3 linked regions of the Homo sapiens genome follow. The protein of the gene in region 2 interacts with the protein of the main gene of each other region in a pairwise test. Each region holds a gene or a part of one and is shown on either strand. Other genes may lie near its edges.

Region 1 (7,791 bases), on a different chromosome or scaffold from region 2:
GGTTGCAGTGAGCCGAGATCGCGCCACTGCATTCCAGCCTGGGCGATGACAGAGCCAGACTCCATCTCAAAAAGAAAACATCAAAAAAAGATACTCTGATTACACAACCTAAGGAAAAATGTAAACACCCTTTTCTAAGCTGCAAGGAAATTTTTCAGGCAACCCATTTTGTTTTTACATGTAAAAGTCTTACAAGTTGAATGGTAATTGTCTGATATAACTTTAAAACTGTATATGCTATAATCCATAACCACATTCCAGAAGCCTAAACTTTTAATATAAATCATTTCTATTAATATGCATGCATCATATCTCATTTATGTTCTCTGGGCTGTATTTGCAATCTGTTCCTTTTAAGGTACAACTGAAATCTTCTAGGAGCAAGCAAGGCCATGCTCAGTAAACGTATCATTGGACTAATACAGAACATTTGCACACTAGCCCAAATTAACCTCACGGGAGGCAAGGAACTAGGAAAAAATATTTTATTTATTTATTTTTTTTTTTTGGAAACAGGGTCTCACTCTGTTGCCCAAGCTGGAGGGCAGTGGCCCGATCATGACTCATTGCAGCCTCTAAGTCCCAGGCTCAGGTGATCCTCCCACCTCAGCCTACTGAGTAGCTGGGACTACAGGTGTGCACCACCATGCCCCACTAATTTTTGTATTTTTAGTAGGAATGAGGTTTCGCCATATTGCCCAGGCTGGTCTGGAACTCCTGGGCTCAAGAGAGCCACCAGCCTTGGCCTCCCAAAGTCCTGGGATTACAGGCATGAGTCACCATGCCTGGCCCTAGAAAAAAATATTTTAAATTGTATAAAATTTAACAAGCTATCAAAATGAGGCAACTTAGAAAGAATTCCTAGTAATTCCAAAAGAAAAAAAAACTAAAAAGAAAAAGCTATGTTGGGAAATGTGGTATCTGCATTGTCTCAAAATGTAAGCTGGTAATTCTCTTCAACAGTCCAAAATATTTTAAAACTGGGGTTTTTTTCAGAATGCTCATTTGGTTAGAAATTCTCATTTTGATTGGCTGAGTTGATCAAGATTTTAACTTTTATTATACACACACTCAGAAGCATGAGCTTATTTTATATATCCAATAACATCTCTTACAACTCTACAACTACAGAACTTAGTAGTGTTCTCAAAAAAAAAGGTTCTCTGTAAGCTCAAAACAGTTTCTACAATTGAAAGTTTATTACACACTCATTTGTGGGGAAAAAGCTTAGATGTTGGTGTCCAATGTTATATTTCTCAATGCATTTACTTAGCCAATGGGCAAAAGAAGAAAAAAAATCACAGGACACACACACTTATCTAAAAGAAGGATTAACATGAGAAGTCCTAACTAACCTGAATATTATGTTAATAAACATTAACTGTAAAACAATTTATTGTGAAACGATGAGTCATAGGCAGCCAAGACTACTATAAATAAAAAAGGCATTTTATTTAGTTTAGATTTAGCCTGAGTTCAAAAGAAAAAACTAAAATAAAAATGAAATATGCAACTTTCTCTAAGGCAGACAATTCAAGCTAAAAGAACATTGTTAGAAAGCCAAAGGCTGAGGAAAACAATATCTTTTAAAAACCGCCCATCAGATAACTTTAAATGGCAGGTGCAATCTTCTTGTGAAATAGAAAGCATAGTACTTTCTTCCCCTACATTATAAAATGCTACTATCGAGTATGACTAACAGAGAATAAAGGTACCATGTGACCCAAGAAGGGTGTGTATGAGAAGTAGGGGCAGAAAGACGGGGCTGAGAAAAGCTGCAAAAAGCTTTCAATTTCCTAACTCTGACTCTTAGAGACCAGAGCTTACCTGAATACATTCTGCTGGGGATTGGAAATCATGCAGAAAGGTCTGTGATTCCAAAACGTTAATACATTTATTATAAAGTAATCTTGGGTAAAGATATGTTGCCTTAAGCAAAGAGTTAACTGTTCATAATACCCATTTGAAAAATCTCTCATTTTGTTTGGGAGAAATAATTGATAAGTCCATCAAAGTAGTTTAGTAAGCACAAATGGAGAACTATGTAGAAAGAGGAACTATTATGAAATGTATGACCGAGTGTGTTTTGTGTAAGACTAATGGAGGTTTTCAAAGGTTTTTCGTTTCTGGCTATATACAAAAATAAAAATAAGGGCGTTTTCATTCATTTAAACCAGCAGTAAAATACTGCCTGGTTTATGCCGCTTATTTTCACCTTACAGTCTTAATACACATTCCAAGACTGATGCGATATTCATTATTTCTTTCGGATAACTGGAAGAGGAGGGGGAGTAAAGCTGTACATTAAACAGTCCACTTGGTAATTGAGAAAATTCAGCAGTGAAATATATCATGAGGCACCAAAGAGATTTGCCGGGGAGGGCAGACAAAAGAGAAAACAGCCACAGAACATTAAGCCCCGGAAGAGATGAGAATCGGTCCCATATACGTAACTCGACGACTGGACAAAACCCCGCTTGACGCTGCCGGTGGGTGAAACGAGGTGATTTGAGATTCAGGGCGTTCTCGGCTCTTTCCCTCTCTCGAATCGATCATCTCCAACAGGAAGTCAGAGCAAGGCAGGGTTCGGAGTCAGAGAAAGCTCCCGGGGGAGTCTGTCTACCACGACAACAAACTCCTAAGGCTCCTTCCGGAGCTCCACAGCCCTCTGGGCGGCCTCTCTAGCGCTGTACTTCACGTCCCCGCTCCCCAAAAAAGTCGTGCACCCCGACTTCAGCTATCCGCGTTCAAGAGAGTGCGGCAGCAGTTGGGTCGGCCCCCTCAGCGGTCCCGGGCCGTAAGGGACCTGGCGGAGCGGCTCAGGGAGGCTGAGACGGCGGCTACACGACTTTCATTACCTTCTCGCGCTGATCCCAGCTGTACTGCTTTGGCCGCTCCTCCTCGTTCTCGGGCCGCGACTCCTTGTCAGCCTTCCGTCTCTTGGAGAAGAAGCAGCCCATGGTCCCAGCCCGCGGAGCTCGTTGGCCAGCTCACTAGCTCAGGCACTTCCTAGAGTGTGGCGTGAACCCTGGGAACCCCGGCCTCGCAGCTCTCCGGACAACGCCCCGCGGAACCGCCCAACGGTCCGCAGCCTTAGTTTGCCCGCCAGGCCCAGCACCCCTTCCCCTTTTTCGTCGCCCTGACGACCCAGCGCAGCCAATGAACGCTCAGCGCCTGTTGAGCCAATCAAAGCCTCTCGAGCAATCCTGCGCGGCCTATGAAGAGAGGCCGACATACCCACATACCAATCCACGCCTGGCTCCTGCGACAGCCCCTGGCGGCGGGGCGGGCCGGCTCTGGCGCAAGCACGGACAACCCCGCCCACAGCTGTGGCACGGACCGCCCTCGGCCCCGCCCCTCCTGGAACTTGGTGGGTTCTCTAGCTGGTGGGAGGCCAGGCTCGGTATCCGGGTTTTTTTTGCCCCTGATTCATAAATTTGCAAGTTCAAGGCGCGGGAGAGATCTCTAGTTGAACATTAGATTTATCTTATGATGAAAGTTGTGAGGGACAGAAATTCCCGCTGACACAAGAAGACCCTGAAATTTGTATTTCTAAATCCTCTTCTCCCCTCATCACCCTTCCTACCGCCCTCTCATCGCCTGGCCAGGGTCACCCCCTCAAGAATTGTACCCCATAACCTCCCAATCCTCTTCTGTGCTCTTTCTTTCTTTCTTTCTTTCTTTCTTTCTTTCTTTCTTTCTTTCTTTCTTTCTTTCTTTCTTTTTCTTTCACAGGGTCTCGCTATGTCACTCAGGCTGCAGTGGCACAATCATAACTCACTGCAACCTTGCAACTTTGCAACCTTGACTTCCTGGGCTCAAGCGATCCTCCTGCCTCAGCCTCCTTCCTGAGTAGCTGGAACTACAAGCAAGCACCACCATGCCCACCTATTTTTTTTTTTTTTTACTTTTGTAGAAATGGGGTCTTGCTATGTCGCCCAGGCTGGTCTTGAACTCCTGGGCCCAAGCGATCATCCTGCCTCAGCCTCTCAAGGTGCTGGGATTACAGGCAGGACCCACCGCACCCCAGGCTGCTTCTGTGTTTTCTTAAGACTTTCACATATGGCTCTAAAATTGCACAAGTACTTAGTAAAATAGTTAATTGTGTATTGTTTCCCTATTTGAACTGTGACTTTCTTGAGATCAAAAAGGTATATCTTTTTTTTTTTTTTTTTTTTTTGATGGAGTTTTTGCTCTTGTCGCCCAGGCTGGAGTGCAGCAGTGCCATCTCGGCTCACTGCAACCTCCGCCTCCCGGGTTCAAGTGATTATCCTGCCTCAGCCTCCAGAGTAGCTGGGACTGCAGGCGCCTGCCACTACGCCCGGCTAATTTTTGTATTTTTAGTAGAGACGGGGTTTCACCATGTTGGGCAGGCTGGTCTCGATCTCCTGACCTCAGGTGATCTGCCCGCCTCGGCCTCCCAAAGTGCTGGGATGACAGGCATGAGCCACCGCGCCTGGCCTAAAAGGTATGTCATAAAGGGCATGCAGGGCCGGGCGCGGTGGCTCACGGCTGTCATCCCAGCACTTTGGGAGGCCGAGGCGGTAGGATCATGAGGTCAGGAGATCGAGACCATCCTGCTCAACACAGTGAAACCCCGTCTGGTGAAACCCCGTCTCTACTAAAAATACAAAAATTAGCCGGGCGTAGTGGCGTGTGCCTGTAGTCCCAGCTACTCGGGAGGCTGAGGCAGGAGAATTGCTTGAACCCAGGAGGTGGAGGTTGCAGTGAGCCAAGATGGCGCCGCTGCACTCCAGCCTGGGCGACAGAGGGAGACTCTGTCTAAAAAAAAAAAAAAAAAAAAAAACCAGAGCCGGGGGGGGCGGGCACGGTGGCTCACGCCTGTAATCCCAGCACTTTGGGAAGCCAAGGCGGGCGGATCACAAGGTCAGGAGTTCGAGACCAGCCTGGCCAATATGGTGAAACCTCATCTCTACTAAAAATACAAAAATTAACCGGGCATGGTGGCGGGCGCCTGTAGTCCCACCTACTCGGGAGGCTGAGGCAGGAGAATAGCTTGAACCCAGAAGGCGGAGGTTGCAGTGAGCCGAGATGGCGCCACTCCACTCCAGCCTGGGCGACAGAGCAAGACTCCGTCTCAAAAAAAAAAAAAAAAAAAGGCAGTGGGGAGGAAAGCTGAGGGGAGGGATGTACCTTTGAATCTCCTACACCTGGCCCAAGTCCATACTAGGTGCTCAATACAACGTTTGTCAAATGAATGAATGCATGCATGGGTGCTAGTGAAGGAAGCATTTATAAACTTCCCCCATCCCTTCCCAAAGAAAGTGACCAAACTGTGGGGGTGGGAGGCATGTGGATTTATGGTAAAGGGGTTCTCCTCATGGAGTTTATAGCCTCGTTGAGGACATAAGCATTGCATATGAACGATCAGATCTGTTCTAAGCAAATGGCATAGGGTTCGTCAGAATATATTTAAAGATATATACACTAAATATAAACATTTGTTATACTTGGGTCGAATTTTACTGCAATACACATGCATTGCCTATGTAATAGAAAAGAAAGGTAAGTCAGTTTCTCTGAGAAACAGTATTTTGACATCTCAGTAGGATATCAAATGCTGATCACTTCAGGTTCAAATTTGGTTATCTTTTAAATTTCCCATACTTATTCACATCTAGTTTGTATCCTAAATGAGCCTCTGACTTTTTTTTTTTTTTTTTTTTTTGAGACAGAGTCTCGCTTTATCACCCAGGCTGGAGTGCAATGACATGATCTCAGCTCACTGCAACCTCCACCTCCCAGGTTCAAGCAATTCTCCTGCCTCAGCCTCCCGAGTAGCTGGGGCTACAGGCGCACAAAACCACACCTGGCTAATTTTTGTATTTTTAGTAGAGACGGGGTTTCACCATGTTGGCCAGGCTGGTCTCGATCTCCTGACCTCAGGTGATCCACCCACCTCGGCCTCCCAAAATGTTGGGATTACAGGCGTGAGCTACAGTGCCCGGCCGACTTAATTTGAACATAAAGAATGTTCCCCTTTTTACTTCCCGTCCTTTATTGCACAATCGGGAAGAAAAGTACATGTGCTTAAGTATTAGAAATTACTGCAAATTTAAGTTCCAGATCTTAGGCAATAGAGTCTTTACCCAGTGCACACTTTTTCTCCTTCAGAGTGAGATGAAAGTTTTATGTGAAGATGTTTTTGGATAAGACCCTCATTCGATATTTTATAATCTATTATTATATTTATAATCTATGGTCTATGATTATAAAACATCTGTGACCAGATATAAATATATAACTATGACCACTACTTAGTGTAGCAGAGGAGGCAGAGATCCAGAGAGGTGAAGGGATGAATCTGTGGTCACGATGAGAGTGGCTGAGCAGGGACTGGAAAAATCCACATCCTGTGTTTCCCAGTGCCTCCTCCTGCCTTAAGTTTGTTCCTCTCTAATTCATCTGAAATAAGTATCTGCCTCGGCCTTCTGATGCCTATGGGAGCTCTGTCCCACAGTGATGCTATTCCTCTTAATGAACAAACAATATAACAAAACTAATTCTAGAGAAACAACCTCTGAAACTCTCACTGTTTTGAAGTATTCATTAATGAGAAAAGCTCAAATCTACAATAAAACCTATATCCAAGAGTGATCTTTTCAGGGACCCTTAAAAGTGAAGATAAAGTCCCTTTTCTGTTCATTCCCATCCTACCATCACTCTTGACCAAAAACAAAATTACAAAAAGAAAATTAAATCAAATGTTAAGAACTGGGGACTAGAAAGCTAATGAACAGAGCTAATACTAGTGCTGTCTCATCCTTTTTCTTTCTCTCTTATTCTTTCTTTCTTTTCTGCCCCATCTCTTTTTCACCTGTCCCCATGAATTCTCATCACTACTTATTTTTGCAAACCAGCTCTCTACTTACTCATCAGCATTTACATGGTTGACAACAGCTATCCCACCCTGATTCCTCATGGCCTTTCTGTCCAAGGGCATGCTACAGTCTCAGACTCTCAAGGGAGATAATCATATACATTGCTGGCCAGTCAATAACAGATTGGCTCTAGGTTGGTATGCACCCCTGGTCCCATTGCTGCAGCTGCAGGGGCGAATTCCAAACATGGGTGTTACAGATATGGGTGGGAAGCAGGTCCTGAAAAGGGAACGCTAACTCTGAAGAGTTCAGGCAGAAGTTGGTTGCTTGTTCTGCTTGTGCTCCTCCTGCTATTTATATTCTAGTGATTTCTTTTCTATAGAAGGCTGCCCTTCCTGTTCAGCTTGATGTATCTATTCATCTATATTAAAATGTTGAGTTGTGGGTTTACACCTGGCCACAAGCTCCAGAGATGGCTCTGGGTCCCCTGAGTCTTGACCACAGAAGTGATATAGTTACTTCTCAGAAGACAGTCCTGGCCGGGCACGGTGGCTCACACCTGTAATCCCAGCACTTTGGGAGGCCGAGGCAGGTGGATCACTTGAGGTCAGGAGTTTGAGACCAGCTTGGTCAACATGGTGAAAATACTAAACATACTAAAAATGCAAAAATTAGCCAGGCGTGGTGGTGCGCCCCTGTAATCCCGGCTACTCAGAAGGCTGAGGTGGGAGAATTGCTTGAACCCGGGAGGCAGAGGCTGTAGTGAGCCAAGATCGCACCACTGCACTCCAGCCTGGGCAACAGAGTGAGATCCCATCTCAAAAACAACAACAACAAAAAGACAGTCCTGAAGCAGTGTATCTCTACAGCATGAATAAGTCAATTACCCCAGCAACGATGGCTGGAAAATTCCCTATGTTTGAGTTGACCTGACACATCCTTGCTCACT
Region 2 (7,018 bases):
TGGCTCATGCCTGTAATCCCAGCACTTTAGGAGGCCGAGGCAGGTGCATCACCTGAGGTCAGGAGTTCGAGACCAGCCTGGCCAACATGGTGAAATGCCGTCTCTACTAAAAATACAAAAATTAGCTGGGCATGGTGCCACACACCTGTAATCCCAGCTACTTGGTAGGCTGAGGCAGGAGAATCACTTGAACCTGGGAGGCAGAGGTTGCAGTGAGCCGAGATTGTGCCACTACACTTCAGCCTGGGCAACAGAGCGAGGCTCTATCTTAAAACAAAAAAAGGAAAGACACTGGCTTCAAATATACAATCTGGTAGAGGAATTAATATACGATTAGAGAACAAGTTTACCACCCTATACCACAAAACACTCTCATGGGTGTCAATTCTGAATATAAGGTTTGAAATCTCTTAAGCTTTTAAAAATACACATAACATTTAAGGCTTACAAAAAGGTTTACTAACATATTTTATAAAAATGATGCCATGTATCCTCCAGGTTAAGAAATGGTATCACTACTGTGAAGGTGAGTGGTTGCGGGGTAAAAAAAAAGAAAGAATGGCATCACATACCAGCTCCTGTAATATCATAATCCTATCAAGTACGGATTTGCAAAAATTTTCACTTTAGATATGAGGTAATTAATATGTTTTCTCCACACCCTGTCCTCACTTATCAGGTAAAAAGAATTTTACTCCTTTAAGATTAAAAAACAAGCATGCCTTCATTAAAAGAGATTAAAAGAAAAAAATCATCACGTCTTCTTGATTTATAAGTGGCCCCTAAGTCTTTTATTCTACTGCATTTACAAACTGTTCTTCTTGAAGTTTCAGTTTAAAGTCCTCTCTGATTCCTTCCAGTAACTCTGGTTTAAAAATAACATCCAGTGCCGTCATTGCCAGAGCTTTGGCCGTCCGCAGAGTGTAGAACTGAGCTTCCTGTGACCCTAAAAGGTAGAGAAAATAAAATACCTCCTTACTTATTTAAGCTGTATTTAATTTCACAGGTTAGCTACCCGTATCTCAACTGGCTCTCCAACTGCCCACCACAGTGCAGTATTTACTGAGGTGATGTTATGTAGTGAAATAGTAGGTTAAACAGAAAGGCAGCTACTACCAGAAGAAGAGTGTGTGTGCCAAAACAGTCACATCCAACAACACTTACCAGCAGCTTCAGTGTACTGTTCAGTATGATTCAAGGCATTAGATCCAATGTGAAAATATGGATGAATTCCAGGAACCACAAAACTAACATTTCCAAAATCCGTAGATCCTTGGAACACACAAAGTTAAGAAAAGTCTATTTAAGTATATGTGGTTAAGTATTCTGGAGTTATGAAGTCACAGTCCCTGTTAGAAGAGACGCAGAGAAGTGAGCTTCTTGGAGAGTTGTCCGTATGCTCATGCTTTCATGGGCTCACCTTCCACTGAGTCTGCCACCCACTCCCCTGTATCAGTCACATCTCTCATGAAGGTCACTGCAAACCTGCCCTCACCTTGTCTCACGGCTTTTACTGGCCCTCTTGGCCAGCACTCCACACTGCCACCTACTCCCTTTCTTCTCTTCTGTGACACAGCACTTGCATGGCTTCCCTTCTGCCTCTCTGATGGCCCCTTCTTCTGTCTCTCTTGGGGATAGAGCCCCCTCTACCTGACGATGAAATAATAGTTACGGGAGACTCCATTCCAGGCCCCTTTCTCTTCTTACTGCATATTCTTTCTCAAGATTTTGTCCGTATGTATTGCTTCAAATCACCACCAACTCAAATCTCTTCCCAGTCTCTGCTAAGTTCCATGCTCATACATCCAGTTGCCAGCCTGGTATCTTCTCTTGGATGTCTTCAAGGTAGATCAAACTTAACATATCTAAAGTCAAACTCATGATCTTTCTCTTCTACCTCCACTCCACCTATCAACAGTACCTGCCAAATATCTCAGAATCCTAACGCTCTTTGCATCACCATCACCAACACCTGTCCTCAGCCTATGCTATCATTATCTCTTGCCTGAACTAGAAGTTTCCTAATTGGTCTAGCAGCATCTACTCTATTTGCCGTCTTTTTTTTTTCAATCTTCATTCACCTTTCCAACCTGATCTCATACCATGTTCCCACTACTCTCGATGCCCTAGCCGCTCTAGACACTCACCATGCTCTCCCTGTCACAGGACCCTTGCACATGCTATCCCTGCATCATCTCTGTAACTCTTACTTAACCTTCAAATTCCATCTTAAGCATCATTTCCTCAGCAAAGCCTTACTTACTTCACCTTCCCATAAAGTGAAATTCCTCTAGCATAAGCTCTCACAGAGATGTATTACTCTCCTTTACAGTACTTTTTAATTTTCCATGTATTGGATGATTTGGTTCATGCTTATGTCAGAAACTAAATTATGAGGCTGTATGAGGCAAGAAATAGTATTTGAAATGACTGTGCATCTAGCTTCTCACAGGATTGACACACAGGCACTTGTTGAATAAATCACAGTAAAAACAAAGCCTTATGTTCACTCAATGGATATTTACTGAATGTTTATTACATGTCAAACACCATGCAGGCAAAGTGAGACTACACAGTGATTGGTAAGAGAATAAAGGAATATGTGACAAAGAGTAGCTAACATTTATCTGGAATACTACGTTCCAAACACAATCCTAAGTGCTTTGTATGTATTCTCATTAATATTTAGAACAGTTTCCATTTTAAACATGAAGAAACCAAGGCTTATGGGTATTAAATAACATGCCGATAGTCTCACAGCTGCTAGTTATGTGGTAAATGCAGACTGAGGCCAGACTTTGAGGCATAGTAGCCTCTATAGAAGTACTGCTTCAGAAAATATTCACTAAGCACTTAACTGTGCCAGAAACGGCTCCACACACTGAGGATGCACAGTAATGGGACATCAGTGAACAGGATGGAAAAAGCCTCTCCAGTGTTTAAAGAGTCTAAAGAGTCTGAGTGTAAAAACAAAACAAAACAAAAAAGGATGGACAAAAAAAAACCTGTTGCATATTTTAAGATCTTACTTGTGGAACTAGACCCTAGAGCCCACAAATCATACCAAAATCACAGCCACTTTATCCTACTGTTTTGTCCATTATATAAAACCCAAACCCGGGGTAGAGCAGGCCATGTGTCTTCCCTTCTTCAGCTAGACAGCAGAAACCTGCTAGGGTAAAAGAACAGAACCATGCTGAGCTGAGCTTTCTTGCTGTCCAGAACAAAAGAAAACATGAAACTCTGATGTCCCTGGACAACTCCTCTCAGTGGCAATTCTCTCTCAATCCCTCAGCCCTACCAGCTCAATGCTCACTGTGTGCTACTTCCTAGAGGGAAAGTCTCTGAACTCCCTGACCTCCTTCCTAAACATTACATCTACTTCTCAAGTATCTTCCCTTAAAAACTATTTTCTTTTCCGTATTTCCCTCAAGCTTGTATCCACTCTTTCTATTTTCCTTGAAAGCTAACTCTCTTGAAAAAGAATAGTCTTCATTTGCTACTTCCACTATCTCAGCAGTCAATGCCCTGGGTAGAGAAGTGAGACCCAGCATCTGGTACCACTGGTCTTATACTATTTTCTTCCAGACAATTCATGAATTTCTAATTACTAGAGTCCAGTGGACACTAGACCATATTCATCTTATTCAGTCTCTACAGCACTTGACATGATTTATGCCTCCTTCTCTTCTGTAAGTTTTCTTCTCCCTTGGCTTCCATGACTTCTCCTCTCTCCTGATTGTCTGGCTTTCTCTCTGACCACTTCGTTGACTGCCAATGTCTGATCTCTGGGAATCTTCTTCCTCTATGTATTTGGGCAACCTCATCGACATCTATGTCTTCTATATACCTTTCATATATGGACAACTCCTAAATCTCCAAACTAGACATCTTTTTGGGTTCTAGATTTAACAGGTACTGAACAGCTCCACTTAGAAATACTATAAGCACCTCAAGTTTAACATACTAATAATTTATAACAACCCCCTCTTACCCTAACCTGCTCTTTCTCTTGAACTCCTTATCTTAATGAATGACACCGACACCCCATTTTCACCACCAAGTCCTTTTGGGCCTACTTCAACAACATCTATTTTTAAAACAGATGATACATCTCTAACTTGCAAATGTATTAGTAATAATATGCTTTTAAAAGGAAAAAAAAACTAACATAACCCCAAATATGCTTATTTCAATTCTAGCTGTCTGTTGCTCCTCAGAAACTGAAAATGCCCCAGATAACTAAGTACTTAGTAACCTGCTTATTGTGATGACTGAGAATGAATTAAAATTCTATATCCCACCTTAGCAACTTACTTAAAAATTAAAACTAACGAAACTTAAACACTAGAAAATATTTAGAATACAGACAAAAATGTAGGTTGACTATTTCTAAAATCAAGTCTGCTCGTTTGACATTCTACACTCACTTAAGAGTCCATTAGTTTCTTTCCCCTAACCATAAAGTTTGTGAAAATATTAAAAACGTCAGTAGTACCTCCCGACCTCCCAAACCATTAAATACAACCAATTTAACCAAAGATGGTATTTCTCTTCCTCAAATAGCTCAATATATAAAAAAACACTTAATTACCTGAAGGGCCATTCAACATTGTATCTTCTGAAATGAACTCTATTCCTAGCTTTCTTCCATTTTCCATATAGGCTTTCCATAGGCTCTTATTGGGAAGAACATTGTAATAATCATGTGCTCCACCTTTAATTTCCACCTAATAAAAAATTGCAAAACAAATTTTGAAATAAAAAACTCAAATTCACTATCTAATTTTCAAACCAGTGATTGTTCTCTAATAGGAAGAGGTTTTAAGAGAAGATACTTTCCCTTCCAGATATAAACACTCTCAAATCTCTTACCTTAAAAAAGAAAAAAGATTTATTTTCTATAACGAGAGTTCCTAGGACTCTCTTTTATGCTATATATACACTAAACCCCACAATGTCACCAAGCTCTATACTAGCTACCAAGTGTCAACTTCAGTCACCTAGATAGGGTATGAGAAGGGCCCAGAAATTTTTATTTTATTTTTGAGATGGAGTCTCACTCTGTTGCCCAGGCTGGAGTGCAGTGGTGTGATCTCAGCTCACCACAACCTCCGCCTCCCAGGTTCAAATGATTCTCCTGCCTTAGCCTCCCAAGTAGCTGGGATTACAGGCGCCTGCCACCAAGCCCAGCTAATTGTTTTTGTATTTTAGTAGAGATGGGGTTTTGCCATGTTGGCCAGGCTGGCCTCAAACTCCTGACTTCATGTGATCTGCCCGTCTCGGCCTCCCAAAGTGCTGGGATTACAGGCATGAGCCACTGCACCCAGCCTAATTTTTATTTTAACCAGCACCTCAAAGTAATTCTGACATAGGTGACCCAAAAACCACACTCTGAGGAACACTGCTCTAGGATTCAGTCTCCAAAAAAAAGAAATTAAGCTTTACTAATATTCAATATGCAAACTGACACTGACATCACTGCCTGGTGTGAGAGGTAGAAAAGTACTCTGAGGGAAATGTAGAAGATTTGCAATGAGGAAGGGTTGACAACAGTCCTCATTTATTAATTTCAGTATATAAAGATACGGAAGCAGCTTTTATGTGCCCAGTTAAGTGGATTTACAGATTCAGTTTTGATTAAATAAAAATTGGCAATATTCCCTCAAACCAATATTAGCAAAAGCCAATCATAAAATGGCAGAGATGACATTTCTTTTATTCTTAGCAACATCTACGGTAGAAATTATGACAACCAAATCAGACCTTACAAGTCAGCCAAAATATAAGAAATTACTAAAAGATTATTTAAAATATAGATTTAGGCCAGGCAAGGTGGCTCACACCTGCAATCCCAGAACTTTGGGAGGCCAAAGCACGAGGATCACTTGAGCCCAGGAGTTTGAGACCAGCCTGGGCAACACAGGGAGAGCCTATCTCTACAAAAAACTTTAAAAATAAATAAATTAAATTAAATATAGATTCAAATCCAATAACAACAAACCTTACCATAAGGGAATACTGTATACCTTGAGATATTGCCTAATGATAATAGTTCACATCCATAAGTATTTCACAAATAAATATTTATAATTATAAATGAATAAGGGAATAAATATTTAGTTTTTACTGCCCTCAGCTATGGACATTTCACAGTTTTCATTCACTATAACCATCTTCTCTAGTGGCATATGAGAATACATCTTTGCTCCTACATCTGTCCATATGTTTATCGATTAACTACAACACAACACGAGCTTCTATATTCTTATCTTTGCTGACTATATTCCCTAAGAACTTTCAGTCTCTGTCTTTCCCATGCATATCTGAAAGTATGATCAACCTTCAAAGCTCAGTTCAGGTCTACAGTCTTCCACAAAACCTTCCTCCAAGGTTAACAGCCCCAGACCACTCTTTCCCACCTCTGATCCTCACGACACATTCCACACTACTCTCAGGACACGTAACATATGCTTTCTGAGAATTACTGCTACTGTGAGATACTGCTACTACGTGAATCAATCATACATCTCTAGACTAATAAGAACAGAAAAAAATAAGGCAATATAAATGAAGGCTGGGCTCTAAACCCTTCAGAAACATTATCTCATTTAATTCTCACAAGAATCCTAAGATAAATTGTTATTATCTCCATTTTTCAAGCAAGAAAATGGAGAGCCAAAGACACTAAACATTTCTAAAGGTTACAGAATTAGCTAGGCTGAGAGTTATGGGTCAAGATCTTGTCTCTCCAACTAGACTACAGGCTCCCTCTAGGGCAAGATTCTTATCTTGTATAATTCTAAAACTCACTCCACTTTACACAGTACATGATTTTAAATACTAACTTTATAGTTCAAATCAACAAAACCAGTCAGTGTGGTGGCTCACACCTGTAATTCCAGCACTTTGGGAGGCTGAGGTGGGTGGATCACAAGGTCAGGAGTTCGAGACCAGCCTGGCCAACATGATGAAACCTCGTCTCTACTAAAGATACAAAAAAATAGCTGGGTGTGGA
Region 3 (7,774 bases), on a different chromosome or scaffold from region 2:
AGAGAGAAATACCTACGCATGCCAGGAGTATGGTAGACACTGGACAGACATGAAGACCTTTTTCTAATGGGTCAGGATAGATTTAGGTTGGACCACAGAGAGGTTAGAGTGTTCTGGGGTTTTCCAAGGATAGGACGGTTGCCCCTAATTTTCTCTGGACTTGGCTGTTTCTTCTTGGAGACTCAAAGAAGCAGGGCACAGAGTATTGGATTAATGGGCTCTGGGGAACCCTGTCATCATGTTCTCAATTTCTTGTGCCCTCGAGGATGTGCTGAGCTGGAGAGGGCAAGTACTGGGTTTACTAATAAGATCATGAACAAATGATGCATCCCTGAGCTTTACCCCTGAAGCACCAGAGCAGCCTAGCATTTCACTGGGAGAAAACCGGGTTTTGGCTCGATAAGACTACAGTGGACAGCACCCATGTACAGAATAGCATCATGTGTCTTATTTCCTCATGGCAGCCCAGTGAGATGAGAACGATCTCCATTTTGGAAATAACACAGGTTGTCTGTGTGCCTGGGGACGTTCAGGTAGGGGCTGCGAAGCATTCTCTTGTGGACTCAGGGTTTTTGTTGTTGTTGTTGTTTTTGAGACGGTGTCTCACTCAGCTGCCCAGGCTGGAGTGCAGTGGCGCAATCTCGGCTCACTGCAACCACCGTCTCTCAGGTTCAAGTGATTCTCCCGTCTCAGTCTCCTGAGTAGCTGGGATTACAGGCACCTGCCATCATGCCCGGCTAATTTCTGTATTTTAGTAGAGAGGGGGTTTCACCATGTTGGCCAGGCTGGTCTTGAACTCCTGACCTCAGGTGATCCACCTGCCTTGGCCTCCCAAAGTGCTGGGATTACAGGCATGGGCCTTCGCACCTGGCCTGACTCAGGGGTTTTTAGGAAGAAAGGACCAAGGCCTAGGGGTGCCCTGAGGTGACCAGTGTGGATGGAGGTGGATTTGTTCCCTTTCTTCTTCTGTGCCCCATATCTTACCACTTTAGAAAAGCAAAACTTTCTGTGACTTGCTTTTCTTTTCTTTTCTTTTTTTTTTTTGAGATGGAGTTTCGCTCTTGTTGCCCAGGCTGAAGTGCCATGGTGTGATCTCGGCTCACCGCAACCTCTGCCTTCCGGGTTCAAGCGATTCTCCTGCCTCAGCCTCCCTCGTAGCTGGGATTACAGGCACCCGCCACCATGCCCGGCTAATTTTGGTATTAGTAGAGACGGGGTTTCACCGTGTTGACCAGGCTGATCTCAAACTCCTGACCTCAGGTGATCCACCGACCTCGGTATCCCAAAATTCTGGAATTACAGGCGTGAGCCACCACACCTGGCCTTGCTTTTCATTTTCTTACCTGCAGTTCGCACAGTCCCCTGGGGGCTCAGTGGCAAGTTCAGCGTCGGGTGCCAGAGCGCCTCATTCTTGGTGACCCTGGGAGTCTTCATCACCAAGGAGATGCTAGGTCCCCCTCCAGAGACCTGCATGTTGGCCATGAACCAAGCTGCTGTCTTAACAGTGGTCTCTGTCATCTGGAGAAAGTAGCGGGAGATCTCACAGGTCACCTCCTTCCCACTGCAGTCAGCATGGAGCAAGGCCTCGGCCTGGGGAATCTGGACCAGGTCCACTGGGGAGAAGCAGGGCACACACAGAGGGCAAATTAGCGTGAGAACACCAGGGCCAACGGGAGGCAGTATGTGTGGCTGTAATCGGGACCTGGGCTGTCCTGGTGGAGGGAGCCCGGGAGGACCAAGGACACAGGTGGAAGGCTTTTACCTGAGGCCTCAAAGATAATAGGTGGGTCATCTTGGGCCAGTGTGCCCCCTTGGAAATCGGTGAAGTCCTCCAGGGAGCCATCGTCCAGCACTGGCACCTGCTTCAGCACAAGGGAGGCCCTTGCCCTGTCCTCACTGCTGGCGAGAGCTCCACGGTGCGCACCGTCCTTCGCCAGGAAGCAGTCTAGGACCACGTCCACTGCCCGCCACTGCCCCTCTGCTGGGTGGGGCTCTGCAGACAAAGGCTGGGGTGAGCACCGCCTTCCCCAGAAAGCTACTCCACACTTGCTTCCTGCCCCCGCCCTCAAGCTGTGGAGTCATCAAAGGGTAAAAGTTGCCATCCAAGATCCTAGCTGTTTCTGTGTCCCTCTATTCTCCCGTCATCCCCAAACCAGCTTTCTGGAGAGCACCTGCTAGTCCAGGCAAATACTTCTTGGTGAGAGTTAAAGTCCTGGATTTGCCTTGCTCAGAGGAGTTTATGCTTGCATTTCCAACTGTTGAATAAAAGACTATCTTTTCAGTCAAAGGAATTCTCAGAAAACAAGCAAGTGCCACCGCAGAGAGAGGAGACTGGACAGTTACTGTTGCTGGGGCACTGACAGCCTGCACTGCTTTCTCCCATTTCGGGTAGCCTTCCCCTCCCCCGCCTTCAAGGTCACCTTCCAAGTGATTTCCTCACCTGGGGAGTCCTTTCCTCTTCTGAAGTGTCAGCTCCCAGGCCAGTGCCCTCTCTGTAGGACAGTGGCTCCTGACCACAGCCACAGAGGCAGCCCCTCTTTAGCATTTTCCCTGTGGAGTCCCCACCCTCCCTCCACACACACTATTGGTTCCTTCCTTTGCCAGCCGCTGAGCCTTTCCCCTGTTGGGCTTAGAAGGCGATGGGGTCATCCCCGGCCCCTTTGCTCTTCTGGAATCTCGGGGAGGGTGGCACCCTGGGGCTTCAGTAGCTCTTCTCCCAGCCAGCTCTCCCCGACTCCCAGACTCACTGGTTTCTGCTGCTCCAGATAGAGCCAGGCAGAGCAGCAGGCACCAGCCCTCCTGTGTGCCCATGGAGGCTGCTCTCGAGTTCCCTCCTTGCCCACCGCCCTTCTCCACAGTCCTACGCTGCTTGCGAGGCCCGGCGGAAGAAGGGGGCTCTCCAAGCACACCTGGCAGCCTGCAGCCTTTAGGTTTCTTCCCTGTTCCCTCTGCTGCCGACTTTTCTTTCACTTTCACTTAGAGCAAGATGGCAGCCCGCGTCCCTGTGTGAAGCCGTCTGCAGCAGCTGCCAGAGCCCTGCTTGCTGTTTCCTTTCTCACCACCCACCTCACCCGGAAATCCCCTGGTGATTTCAAGACCTGACCTCTGCACCCTTTTGCTCCCCACCTGTCCCAAAAAAGTGGAGCTATAACTGTGGGAAAAGGGGATCTGAAGTCAGACACAGGATCCACAGTAGCCTGGGGACCTTTCTCACCCCCGCCCTTAAGCAGGCCCCAACATAACCGGCTGAGAAACCTCCTCTGCCAGATCCTGACCTGAGCCAGGAGGCGGCCAGGAAACTGGATTTTGGGACTGGGATTTCAGAGAGGAAGCTGGAGAGCTGCAGGGTGGTCATCTGTCACTTTATTTTGCCCGTCTTGTAGCATGTGGGTCTTTCGCAGCAGGAAGTGTGTTTTACAACCAGAGCCCCCGCCCTCCTGCAGCGCAGGCGCAGCTGGCTGGGCTCCTGCTTCCCACTCTCCACCTCATCCATATTTGTCCTCGTCCCTGCCAGTCTCGAAAAGGCACTCTGTCACGTGTACACAGGAAAGGGCCCTGACAAGAGGATGGGACTGCAGTTGTGGCTGCCAGGTCTCACTCTCCCTTGGATGGTCGGCGGGGTGGGGGTGGAGGCCAGGGCTGTAGTGCAGCTCCCGCAGGTGCTGGCTCAGGGGGAGCAGGCAGGCTCCGGTTTTCGGTAATCCTCCTGGATGGGGATGGTGCTGCCCTCCTCCTCCCTGGGGCAGCTGTAATGACAAGGCTCTGCAGGCTCCACAGGACTTTCTCCTTTGTCTGCAGAAGGAGATCCGATGAGTCTTGGCCAGCAGTGGGGGCAGGGGGAGACGGGAGAAGGAGATGGGTAGAGGCGGGTGCGCTTGGGGGAGGGGTGTCAGGAGCACGCCAGCTAAGGGGAGAGAAGGGGTAGGACCAAGGCTGGTGAAGTGGAGCTGGTGGGTTTCAGTGAGATTCCAGGCGTGGGCAGTGGGGTTGAGCCAGTGGGGTGTGGTGCAGGGGCAGGACCGGAGGCCTGTGTTCTGTCTCTTACTTGATCTATATTTCCTTCGTTGATGGAGGAACAGGGCCCCGGCCAGGGTGAAAACAAGGAACATTCCAGAGAAGATCACAAGGATGCGAATAAAATCGGAGCTGCACAGGGATCTTTGGGCTGTAATAGGAGGGGACACACAGGGGTTAGGGGAGGGTCTAGCCCTTGGCTCCCTCAGCCCAGCCCTCCTGTCACCTTGCCTCTCCCCTTTCCCCCACCTTATTCTATCCCACCCGCCACCGTTGGCCAACTCCTCTCCTAAACAGTGGACTCTGCTTTTTCCCCTCCTCTTATCCCTAATCCTAGGAGCTTTCTGTCTGGCTTCCCTCCTGGCCCCTCGTGTATGCATTCTCTCTAGCGGTGGGGATTAAGGAGAAAACTCACGTGGCCAGTGGGTAGAGAGAGTCCGGGCAGGCAGCTGCCTGAAGTCAGCCAGAGTCTGCATGTGCCCAGCTGTCCTGGCCTCCAGCATCTCTGGAAAAACAGAGACAGAATGAGTAGCAGCAGGGGACCCCATAGGGCACATCTGAAGGCCTGAGAGGTGCTGGATGGGATGGGAAGGCAGAAACAGGCTGACCTTATCTAGGGGTAGGAGTGGGGAGTACTGGTTGGGGTATCACCGCTACCCCACGTGATGGCACAGAGAGTTGCCTGGAACTTACCACTGACATAAGGTAAGTGGGTGGGCTGAGGGTGTGGGCTCAGGGCCTGAGACGACCGAGCGGTCAGCGAAGGGTTTGGAAGAGGATCACACTCGGTGCACTCCTTGTCCCTGCACTGCCAGCCATTGCGACAGGCACACTCAGCATTGGCAGTGATGGTGCAGTTGCGAACGAGAAGACCTGGGGGAAGAGAGGCCCAGGGAGCATAGGACACTCAGACCTGTGGAGACCTTCAAGGTCCACTTGCTTCATCCCCCAACCCCCATCCCAGGCCCACCTCTAGGGACGTGCTTCCCTTTCCATTCCCACCCCTGCAAAGGCCTGCCCTTTGCTCACGGTCCCCCAATGCCTTTGCCATTATTATTGTTATTAAAGAAGAAAGTTGGACCTTTCAGAAGGAAGATTCATGGGTTCAGACATAGAAACCATGAAAAGTAGAAAGAGCTTATATGACTTTCTCTTGTACTCCCTGATACATTTTTTATTTTTTATTTATTTTTTTGAGATGGAGTCTCGCTCTTGTTGCCGAGGCTGGAGTGCAATGGCGTGACCTTGGCTCGTTGCAACCTCTGCCTCCCGGGTTCAAGCAATTCTCCTGCCTCAGCCTCCCAAGTAGCTGGGATTACAGGTGTGTGCCACCACACCCGGCTAATTTTTTGTATTTTTAGTAGAGACGGGGTTTTACTGTATTGGCCAGGCTGGTATTAAACTCCTGACCTCAGGTGATGCACCAGCCTCAGCCTCCCAAAGTGTTGGGATTACAGGCGTGAGCCACTGTGCTCGGCCCCAATACTTTAATAACTTTTAATTAAAGTATAATATACGTACAGAGAGGCACGCATGATTGTAAAGCTTAAGAATTTGTACAAATTTGGCTCACAGGCATAACCAGCAGCAGATCAACAAATATAAAATAGCCGGGTGAGGCAGGGAATTGCTTGAACCCGGGAGGTGGAAGTTGCAGTGAGCCGAGATCACGCCACTGCACTCCAGCCTGGGCAACAGAGTGAAACTCCGTCTCAAAAAAAAAAAAAAAAGAAAAGAAAGAAAGAAAATAGCCAGGTGCAGTGGCTTACGCCTGTAATCCCAGCACTTTGGGAGGTTGAGGTGGGTGGATTGCTTGAGCTCAGGAGTTTGAGACCAGCCTGGCCAACATGGTGAAACCCCGTCTCTACAAAAAATACAAAAATTAGCTGGGTGTGGTGGTGCACACCTGTAGGCCCAAGCTACTGGGGAGGCTGAGGTGGGAGGATCGCTTGAGCCCGGGAGGTGGAGGTTACAGTGAGCTGAGATCATGATACTGCGCTCCAGCCTGGGTGACAGAGTGAGATCCTGTCTCAAACACCACCAACAAAAAACAAAACAAAGTATATTAGGGATTCCCAGGGGCTGGGGCTGGGGCTGGGGTTGGTTGGGGGGAAGAAATGGGGAGTCATTGCTAAGGGGTACAAGTTTCTCTGGGGTAACGAAAATGTTATAGAATTAGATAGTGTTGATGGCTGCACAACCTGTGGATACACTAAAATAAATAAATAATAAATAGTTACTTGATTACAGTTACTTAGCCTTTATTTTGTTTGTTTGTTTTTTGACAGAGTCTTGCTTTGTCGCCCAGGTTGGAGTGCAGTGGCACGATCTCGGCTCAGTGCAACCTCCGCCTCCTGAGTTCAAGTGATTCTCCTGCCTCAGCCTCCCTAGTAGCTGGGATTACAGGTGTGTGCCACCACACCTGGCTAATTTTTTGTATTTTTAGTAGAGACGGGGTTTCACCGTGTTAGCCAGGATGGTCTCAATCTCCTGACCTCGTGATCCGCCCGCCTTGGCCTCCCAAAGTGCTGGGATTACAGGCGTGAGAATTTGCCTTTAAAATATACATTTTGCTCAAGTGTAGAGGTCCGATGCTGGGTGGCTGGGTGTTAATTATCCTGGGGGCGGGTGTGGTAGGGCACTAGCTGGGCTGGGCTGGGCTCGCTGGCGGCTGGTTTGAGAGGAGGGTGATTCAGAGGAAGGCAGTGACACCCAGATGTGGGACAGGCTGCAAGAAAGCCTGGTGGGCCTTAGGGCAGACACTTGTGGGGACCCGGGGAGCCCTAGGTGCCCTGACAGGTGGAAGAGGGGTGCAGAAAGGGAGGATGTCAAAGAGAGAATGTCAAAGGTCATAACCAAACCTAACAATTTTCTTCTACTTATGCCTTTTGTCAGGACAAGGAGAGGGACAAATTCCTTCTTGGCATCCTTATGGCCCTGTGACCTGCTAATGAATGCTGACTCTGAGTTGCTACTAGAATTTGGTTTCCTTGTGGCTTCCCAGGAATTGTGAGCCATGTTGGATAAGGACCTGCAAGGGAAGAATGAGGAAGCCTGGGACAGTGCAGGAGGGGAGAGCACTGGTGGTAGAGAGGAGTGATGACAAGGGTCTCCGCCAAAAGGGAAATGGAGGGGTTAAAGAAGCTGCTGGGGAGGGTTAAAAACAATGTGTTCTCACTCGTAGGTGGGAATTGAACAATGAGAACACTTGGACACAGGAAGGGGAACATCACACACTGGGGCCTGTCGTGGGGTGTGGGGAGGGAGGAGGGATAGCATTAGGAGATATACCTAATGTAAATGATGAGTTAATGGGTGCAGCACACCAACATGGCACATGTATACCTATGTAACAAACCTGCACATTGTGTACATGTACCCTAGAACTTAAAGTATAATTAAAAAACAAAACAAAACAAAACAAAAACAATGAGGTGCTATTGTTTTAGTGGTGAGTATCCGGAGACCTGGGAGTTCTATTTACCAGGTATAACCTGGGCTCAAAATTCCAGGCTGACTTCAGGCATGTCCTCATCTCATAGATGCCAGCACTAAGGCCCAGAGAGGGCCGAGCTCATTCAGCCCACCCATCTTCTCACCCCTGACTGCATTTCCCGGGGGTCCTTCTGCAGCCAGGTGCTGCTGTGGTACTTTGGGATCTATTGGCTGAGCTCCCAGAGAAGGGTCATGGATTGGGCTAGTTTGGAACAAGTGAAGGGACTGAAGATGGGCTCAGTATGGGGCGAAGACCTTCAGGAAG

The links.
Region 1: the proteins of PM20D2 (region 2) and RP2 interact in binary tests that used the Homo sapiens proteins (3 or more experiments, as listed by UniProt).
Region 3: the proteins of PM20D2 (region 2) and TAPBPL interact in binary tests that used the Homo sapiens proteins (3 or more experiments, as listed by UniProt).

The regions. Positions count from the first base shown.
Region 1 is NC_000023.11:46,832,270-46,840,060, reverse strand, and holds the start of RP2 (protein XRP2), read right to left. Parts: upstream 3,019-7,791; 5' UTR 2,961-3,018; coding exon 2,859-2,960; intron 1-2,858. UniProt on the Homo sapiens protein: Acts as a GTPase-activating protein (GAP) involved in trafficking between the Golgi and the ciliary membrane.
Region 2 is NC_000006.12:89,156,037-89,163,054, reverse strand, and holds part of PM20D2 (xaa-Arg dipeptidase), read right to left. Parts: intron 4,731-7,018; coding exon 4,595-4,730; intron 1,651-4,594; coding exon of another isoform or gene 1,547-1,650; exon of another isoform or gene 1,285-1,546; intron 1,273-1,284; coding exon 1,165-1,272; intron 947-1,164; coding exon 792-946; 3' UTR 1-791. UniProt on the Homo sapiens protein: Catalyzes the peptide bond hydrolysis in dipeptides having basic amino acids lysine, ornithine or arginine at C-terminus. Postulated to function in a metabolite repair mechanism by eliminating alternate dipeptide by-products formed during carnosine synthesis.
Region 3 is NC_000012.12:6,447,286-6,455,059, reverse strand, and holds the start of TAPBPL (tapasin-related protein isoform 1 precursor), read right to left. Parts: upstream 3,019-7,774; 5' UTR 2,812-3,018; coding exon 2,748-2,811; intron 2,510-2,747; exon of another isoform or gene 2,441-2,509; intron 1,994-2,440; coding exon 1,763-1,993; intron 1,614-1,762; coding exon 1,344-1,613; intron 1-1,343. Other genes in the region: CD27 antigen, read right to left, coding at 3,486-3,904, 4,046-4,165, 4,430-4,519, 4,708-4,887. UniProt on the Homo sapiens protein: Component of the antigen processing and presentation pathway, which binds to MHC class I coupled with beta2-microglobulin/B2M. Association between TAPBPR and MHC class I occurs in the absence of a functional peptide-loading complex (PLC).